Homo sapiens: one gene and its partner. The protein of the gene in region 2 purifies or fractionates together with the protein of the main gene of each other region. This does not show direct contact. Each region holds a gene or a part of one and is shown on either strand. Other genes may lie near its edges.

What was found. Proteins that work in one complex are often made in the same cells at the same time.
Region 1: the proteins of NLRP7 (region 2) and CAT purify together in Homo sapiens (affinity purification with mass spectrometry, with the first as the bait; one study listed by BioGRID). This does not show direct contact.

Annotation. Positions count from the first base shown.
Region 1 is NC_000011.10:34,437,798-34,441,733, reverse strand, and holds the start of CAT (catalase), read right to left. Parts: upstream 2,801-3,936; 5' UTR 2,721-2,800; coding exon 2,655-2,720; intron 1-2,654. UniProt on the Homo sapiens protein: Catalyzes the degradation of hydrogen peroxide (H(2)O(2)) generated by peroxisomal oxidases to water and oxygen, thereby protecting cells from the toxic effects of hydrogen peroxide.
Region 2 is NC_000019.10:54,927,031-54,930,530, forward strand, and holds part of NLRP7 (NACHT, LRR and PYD domains-containing protein 7), read right to left. Parts: coding exon 3,469-3,500; intron 746-3,468; coding exon 575-745; intron 1-574. UniProt on the Homo sapiens protein: Inhibits CASP1/caspase-1-dependent IL1B secretion.

The DNA of each region.
Region 1 (3,936 bases), on a different chromosome or scaffold from region 2:
CAGCCTCCACACCCCAAGCTCAAGCAATCCTCCCAACTCAACTTCCCGAGTAGCTGGGACTACAGGCATGTGTCACCATGTCTGGCTACTTCTTTTATTTGTTGTAGAGATGGGTTTTCACCATGTTGCTTAGGCTGGTCTCAACTCCTGAGCTCAAACTATCCTCCCACCTCAGCCTCCAAAAGTGGTAGGGTTATAGGCATAAGCCTTCATGCCCAGCCACAGCAGCTTTACTTACAATAGAAAAAAAATTAAATAGCCCAGGTGTCCAGCAACAGGATATCCAAATGGTGGTATATTCAAATAATGGAATCTTACTCAGCAATGAAAAGAACAAACTGCTAATACATGAAACAACTTGAATGAATTAAAGGATGGACAGACAGATGGAGTAACGTAATAAAAGACACAGGGCAAAATGTTCCTTGTAGAATCTAGATGGCAGATATATAGATATACACTGCAAAATTTTTTCAACTTTTCTGAATATTTGAAATTTTTCATTTAAAAAAAGTGTTTGAAAATTATATAGGCTATAAGGCATATGCATAATTCCTTTTGGAGGGCCCTGGGTGGAGGGAGAAGTGCCTAAAAGAAGTAAGCGGTTTTTACTAAGAGCAGCTAAAACTGAGGAACAGTAAGACATCAATGTGACTGCCAATCAGGACGATGTACACAGTGCCCTGAGATGTCATGGACAAAGGGGATGGCTGTATTTCAATTAAGAGCCTCCCAACTATAGATGTGTTTTGGAGTCAGCCATTTCTCACATGGGCAACTATGTAAGGTAAATCAACAGCAGGGACTTCAACAGTTCATGATTCTCCCAAACAAGGAAGAAGGCAGCTAGTCTCAGAATAAAGGGGAGTCCTTTAAAAATGAAAATATTACACCTGTAATCTCGGTACTTTGGGAGGCCAAGGCGGGCAGATCTCCTGAGGTCAGGAGTTCCAGTCCAGCCTGGCCAACATGGTGAAACCCCATCTCTACTAAAAATACAAAAATTAGCTGGGTGTGGTGGTGGACACCTGTAATCCCAGCTACTCGGGAGGCTGAGGCAGGAGAATTGCTTGAATCCGGGAGGCGGAGTTTGCAGTGAGTGGAGATCATACCACTGCACTCCAGCCTGGGCAACAGAGCAAGACTCCGTCTCAAAAAAAAAAAAAGAAAAGAAAAGAAAAAGAAAAAGAAAATATTTTGTTTTGTAAAAATCTCACTACTTTGTCCACACTTTTCTCAATTCACCGAGTATTCATGAAAACTTCAGTGTGAACCAGGATTTGCACCCACTGGGTAAGGAAAGAGTCTTGGGTCCAAGAAGCTGAATTCTAACCTTGTCTCTGCCACTAAGTAGTGGCACATCCTTTACTAAGACTCTACCTCTCTCTGGTTTACTTTAAGAGCTCATGAACCAACCTAATGGTATATAACAAAGAACAGGGCCAAGAGGGGAGATTTTCCAGGCCCTTGGAGGAGAATGGCAGCCTTTTCCCAAACAGGGAACCATTAAAGCAATCCATGAGCACTTAGCATTAATACCCCAGTTCACGAACCTGAGTTTTGAGCAAGAGCACTAGGCAGAATAGGGAAAACAGGGCTGCAGTCCTCTGTCTACCATTAACCAGCAGCCAGGGAACAGGGCAAGACCTTTAGACTCCCTGGGCCAATCTGCCAACAGTAGACTCAGACCAGATGTGGTCTCATCTAATCCAACCTCCTCATAGATGCCCTCTGAGACTCTGCAGCCGTGGGCACAGGCCAGGAATGCCTCCCCCACCACCAAGTTAAAATCCTACTCATTTAAAAAAATTCCTGTTCAAATGTCACCTGCTTTGTCCGGCCCACCTGGTCACTCCCTCTACATTCTACAGATAACCTCTATTAGAGCCCTCACCACGCTGGAGTGTAATCATCTGTTTATGTGTCTCGTCTCCCAGACTAGACTCTCAGCTTCTCAAGGGTGTTGTTCTTGCCGCACTGGAATTTGTACACCTTGCCCCGAACAGTGCCTAGCACCTACAGGTGCTCAAAGAATAGAATAAACGCATTAATCAATCCCTAATGTCACCCCCCAGCTCTAAAATGCTAGGCTTGACATTTTGAAGTGCAAATGAGACAATGAATGTAAAAGTTCTTTTATTTAGTCGTTTAATAATGTGCATAGTACGTACCAGTCACTGTGACTGGTGCTGGAGACCTCAAGATTGTAAAACACAATCCCTGCCCTGCTGGGACCCCACAACTATGAAAGCGTGTAAACAGTATTTCAAGAAGGGCACCATTAGAGCCTGGTTCCACTTCTCCCCTCACTGACTTCCTTGCAGCTGCAGCTCTCTGCCTCTTTCCCCATGAGCCCTCAATCTGTCCTCAAGCTGCGACCTCTGTCCCAGTTGGCAAAAGTGCAAAATTCTGAAGCAACCACCCGAGCCTGTCGCGGACAACAAAGCCTGCAGTCCCGCGCCCCACTACCCGGACCCCCCTCCCCTGCTTCGGCGAATGTAAAAGTCCGTCTGCACCGAAGGGGATCCCCCCTGCCCAGTGAGCCGCGGTACAGTCCCTCCAAGCGCCGCCCCGGGGGAAGCCGGGCCTTTACTTGCCGACGCCCCCGCTTTCTAAACGGACCTTCGGGCCCGCTCGGGGAGCACAGAGTGTACCTGCGCGGCCCGCTGCTCCTTCCAGTGCTGCATCTGGTCGCTGGCGGGATCCCGGCTGTCAGCCATAGCGTGCGGTTTGCTGTGCAGAACACTGCAGGAGGCCTCGGCTCGTGGGTCTCCACCCTCAGCAGGCAAATCTGCCTGTTGCCCCGAGTCCGTGGCGACTTCAGGCTCAGCCAATCAGCACCACCCCCTCGTCCCGCCCCCTCGGGAGGACTGCCTTCTGATTGGCTGCTCGGCGCTAGGCAGGCCAAGATTGGAAGCCCAATGGGCTCGGAGCAGGGCTCTCCGAAGGAGGCCTGAAGACCGGAGATACCCAGGAGGGTGCGGAAAGGAAGGGTCCCGCTCTGGCCCAGCAATTGGAGAGCCTCGCCCCGCCGGCCCGGGGTGCCCGGGATAGCCGAACCCAGGGCGGGGCTCCCGGTTATCAGCATCCTTCAGGCCGCCCTGGGACGCGGCCGTTGGTGGCCTGCCAGTTTTGCAGACGGAATACTTAGACCCTGCTGGGTGGGGCCTTGCGCTCCATAGCTATGCTTTCTCAGCTCTTAAAAAGTCAGCAATCCTGGGTTAAATTACTCTGTACAAAATTAAATTTTGCCATACGCTAATGTAAGTATTATTTGCAACCAAAGGATGGATGGATGCTTTTCTTTTTCTTTCTTAGCTCTTCTTAACTTATTCGTGGATTATCACTTACTAGACTAGTATACTAATTATTTAATATAAAAACACTCTGAAACGTTTATCTCCGTACAGATGGGTGTTGATTTCCTCCTTTACCAGAGAAAAACAACTTAACTTAGATGGGAAAAATGTATTCCCTTGTGATGGGAAAAATGTATTCAACTCTGGTACACTGCCAAATTGGCTTCTTTAAACACTGGAGAAATCTGCTTCCCCAAATTTTACCCCCAGGTAAGCAGGAATTTTGAAAAGCTTTGTGTCTTTAAAAAGCTATGTTGAAGAGTAAAATACTTAGTAATATATAGTACAATATTTAGTAAGTTACTGACTAGTTTGTCATTGTAATCAAAGAGTTTGAATGATTTCTACACCTCCTCAGGTGCTAGGATTTATCTTTAAGCACCTTAATATATATACATAGTATATACCATCATCTTCAAATTAAAAGTTATCAGCTTTTAATTTTTTCCAGTACAACTACATATAATGGGTGGATATATAATAGTGGAAACTTCACATGTTGTTCTTGATCTTACAAAAGTATGATAAGAATCTTGGGCATAAAAGTGGAACTTTAGCAGTTCATTGGAAAAGAAAG
Region 2 (3,500 bases):
AGTGAGTCAAGATCGCGCCACTGCACTCCAGCCTGGGCAACAGTGAGACTCCATCCCAAAAAGCAAAAACCAAAAAGGCCGGGTGCAATGGCTCACCTCTGTAATCCCACCACTTTGGGAGGCCGAGGCAGGTGGCTCACCTGAGGTCAGGAGTTCAAGACTAGCCTGGCCAACATGGTGAAACCCCTCTCTACTAAAAAATTAGCCAGGCATGGTGGCAGGCATCTGTAATTCCAGCTACTTGGGAGGCCAAGGTGGGAGAATCGCTTGAACCCAGGAGGTGGGGGTTGCAGTGAGCCAAGATCGCACCACTGCACTCCAGCCTGGGCTACAAGAACAAAACTCCGTCTCAAAAAAAAAAAAAGAAAAAGAAAAAAATTAGCTGGACATGTTGGCATGCCTCTAGGCCCAGCTACTCATGAGGCTGAGGCAGGAGAATTGCTTGAACCTGAGAGGCAGAGGTTGCGGTGAGCCAAGATTGCGCCACTGCACTCCAGCCTGAATGACAGAGCACGACTCCATCTCAAAAAAACAAAAACAAAAAACAAAACAAAACAAAACAAAAAACCCATACCTGAGTATCTTCAAGGATCCAGTTCTTTGTCTTAGAACCCCAAAGAGCTTAATTATGCCACTCTTCCACAAATGATTCTGGCCCAGGTCCAGAGTTTCAAGCTTCTGATTGCTGAGGAGAGCAGATCCAAGATGCTGACAATAGAAAGGCATGAGGGAGCAGCTCCAGAGGCTGTTGAGGAAGAACATGGAAATCCACGCATTCACTGAGCAGGTAGTGGCTCAAGCGTGTAATCCCAACACTTCGGGAGGCCAAGGCGGGTGGATCACTTGAGGCCAGGTGTTCGAGACCAGCCTTGCCAACACGGTCAAACCCCATCTCTACTAAAAATACAAAGATTAGGCAGGGCGTGGGGACAGACACCTGTAGCCCCAGCACCTTGGGAGGCCGAGGAGGGTAGATCACCTGAGGTCAGGAGTTCGAGACCAGCCAGGCCAACATGGCAAAACCCCATCTCTACAAAAAATTAGCCATGCATGGTGGTGTGTGCCTTTAATGCTAGCTACTTGGGAGGCTGAGGCACAAGAATCGCTTCAGCCTGGGAGGCGGAGGTTACAGTGAGCCCAGATTGCGCCACTGCACTCCAGCCTGGGCAATAGAATGAGACTCCATCTCACAAATATATAACATAAAATGAAAATACAAAAATTAGCCAGGTATGGTGGAACCACCTATAATTCCAGCTACTCGAGAGGCAGGAGAATCGCCTGAACCAGGAGGCAGAGGTTGTAGTTAGCCAACATATCACCACTGCATTCCAGCTTGGGTGAAAGAGTGAGACTTGGTCTCAAACAAAACAAAACAAAAAAACAAGCAGCATATTTGCTGGGGCTCCAGTAGTGAGGAAAGGCAGAGGGGAGTGAGCAGAAGAAATCCTTGTCCTCAGAGTTTTTAGTGACAGCAGACATCTCGATATGTTCTATTGAAGACAATGGATGATGGTATTAAAATAAACAGGGTAGAGGTAAGTCAAACAGAGAGGCATTGATTGGCTAGACTTATGCTGGTCATTTAAGTCCTCTTTTGGAAAGTGATATGAGGAAAGAAACTGAAGGATGGTAGATCATGAACCAGCATGCTAACTGGGGGAGGGAATCTTGTAAATAAAATACTGAGCTAGTGAGAAAGTAGAATGATTTATGGCTCATAACTTACACGAGGATCCCCCATAAGGCCCTGTAGGCCACTGTAGAAGCCTTTGGTTTTGTTTTTTTTAAGGCAGAGTTTCACTCTTGTTGCCAAGGCTGGAGTGCAATGGCGTGATCTCGGCTCACTGCAACCTCCGCCTCCTGGGTTCAAGCGATTCTCCTGCCCCAGCCTCCCGAGAATCTAGGATTACAGTCATAGCTGAGATTACAGGAACAAGACACCAGGTAATCCACCCGTTTGCATTGAGCTTTTGAGTCTTTGGAAATAAAGGTATCACGGTCTGGCTTGAGGCTTGAAATATTCCTCAGGGGGATGGGTTAAGAAACTTCAGGAGGCCAGGAATGGTGGCTCATGCCTGTAATCCCAGCACTTTGGGAGGTTGAGGCAGGTGGATCACTTGAGGTCAGGAGTTTGAGACCAGTCTGGCTAACATGGTGAAACCTGGTCTCTACTAAAAATACAAAAATTAGCTGGGTATGGTGGTGCACGCCTGTAATCCCAACTACTCAGCTCAATCAGGAGAATCGCTTGAACCTTGGAGGCTGAGGTTGCAGTGAGCCAAGATCGCACCACTGCACTCCAGCCTGGGTGACAAAGCGAGACTCTGTCTGAAAAAAGAAAAAAAGTACCCTGTGTTCTAGTGTTTTTTTTCTTTACTCTACAGCAAAGCTAAGTAGTAATGACGTGCAGATTCTCTTTGCATTAGGATTGCAGATTCTAGTTGGAAAATAGGTTGCATCCAAGAGATGCAACTGACAAACTTTGGGGAGAGAAGTGATGAAGAGCTCGCCATTCCATTTGTGGAGACTTTGCATTTTCTGGGGGTGGTATCCCACCTATGGTTCCCTGGGTTTATGAGGTGGGGCAGGCTCACTGCTTCCTGATTACTGGATCCCAGCAGAAGCAGCATGCTGCTGAAGTCCAGGTCACTGGGGGCCATTGTTATATATATTTCACTTCTCCAGGCCCTCTACCTGACTTTAGAAGTGCCCACCCACATATATTCAGTTTCTGGAGGGGTTTGATCTTAAAACTGGATCCGAAGTGATACAGTCTGAGATATTGAAAACATAGAAATTGGCCGGGCGTGGTGGCTCACGCCTGTAATCCCAGCACTTTGGAAGGCCAAGGCGGGCAGATCATGAGGTCAGGAGATCGAGACCATCCTGGCTAACACTGTGAAACCCATCTCTACTAAAAATACAAAAAAAATTAGCCAGGCACGGTGGCGGGCATCTGTAGTCCCAGCTACTCAGGAGGCTGAGGCAGGAGAATAGCGAGAACCCGGGAGGAAGAGGTTGCAGTAAGCCGAGATCGCGCCACTGCACTCCAGCCTGGGCAACTAGAACGAGGCTCCGTCTCAAAAAAAAAAAAAAAAAAAGAAAACATAGAAATTAAGGATTTCCAGATTTCCAAACACTTTAAAAATGAGGCCAGGCATGATGGCTCATGCCTGTAATCCTAGCACATTGGGAGGCCGAGGTGGGAGGATTCCTTGAGCACCAGAATTCAAAACCAGCCCGGGAAAGATGACAAGACCTCATCTCTACAGAAAACAGTTACCTGGCCATGGTAATACATGCCTGTAGAGCCAGCTACTCAGGAGGCTGAGGTGGGAGAACCGATCAAGCCTGGAAGACCGAAGCCGCAGTGAGCCGTAATCACCCCACTGCACTCCAGGCTGGGGGACAGAGCAAGACCCTGTCTCAAAAAAAGAAAGAAAGAAGAAAAAGAAAATCGCCTACCGTAGGTGTTTTAGGTTACAGTTTGGATTCTC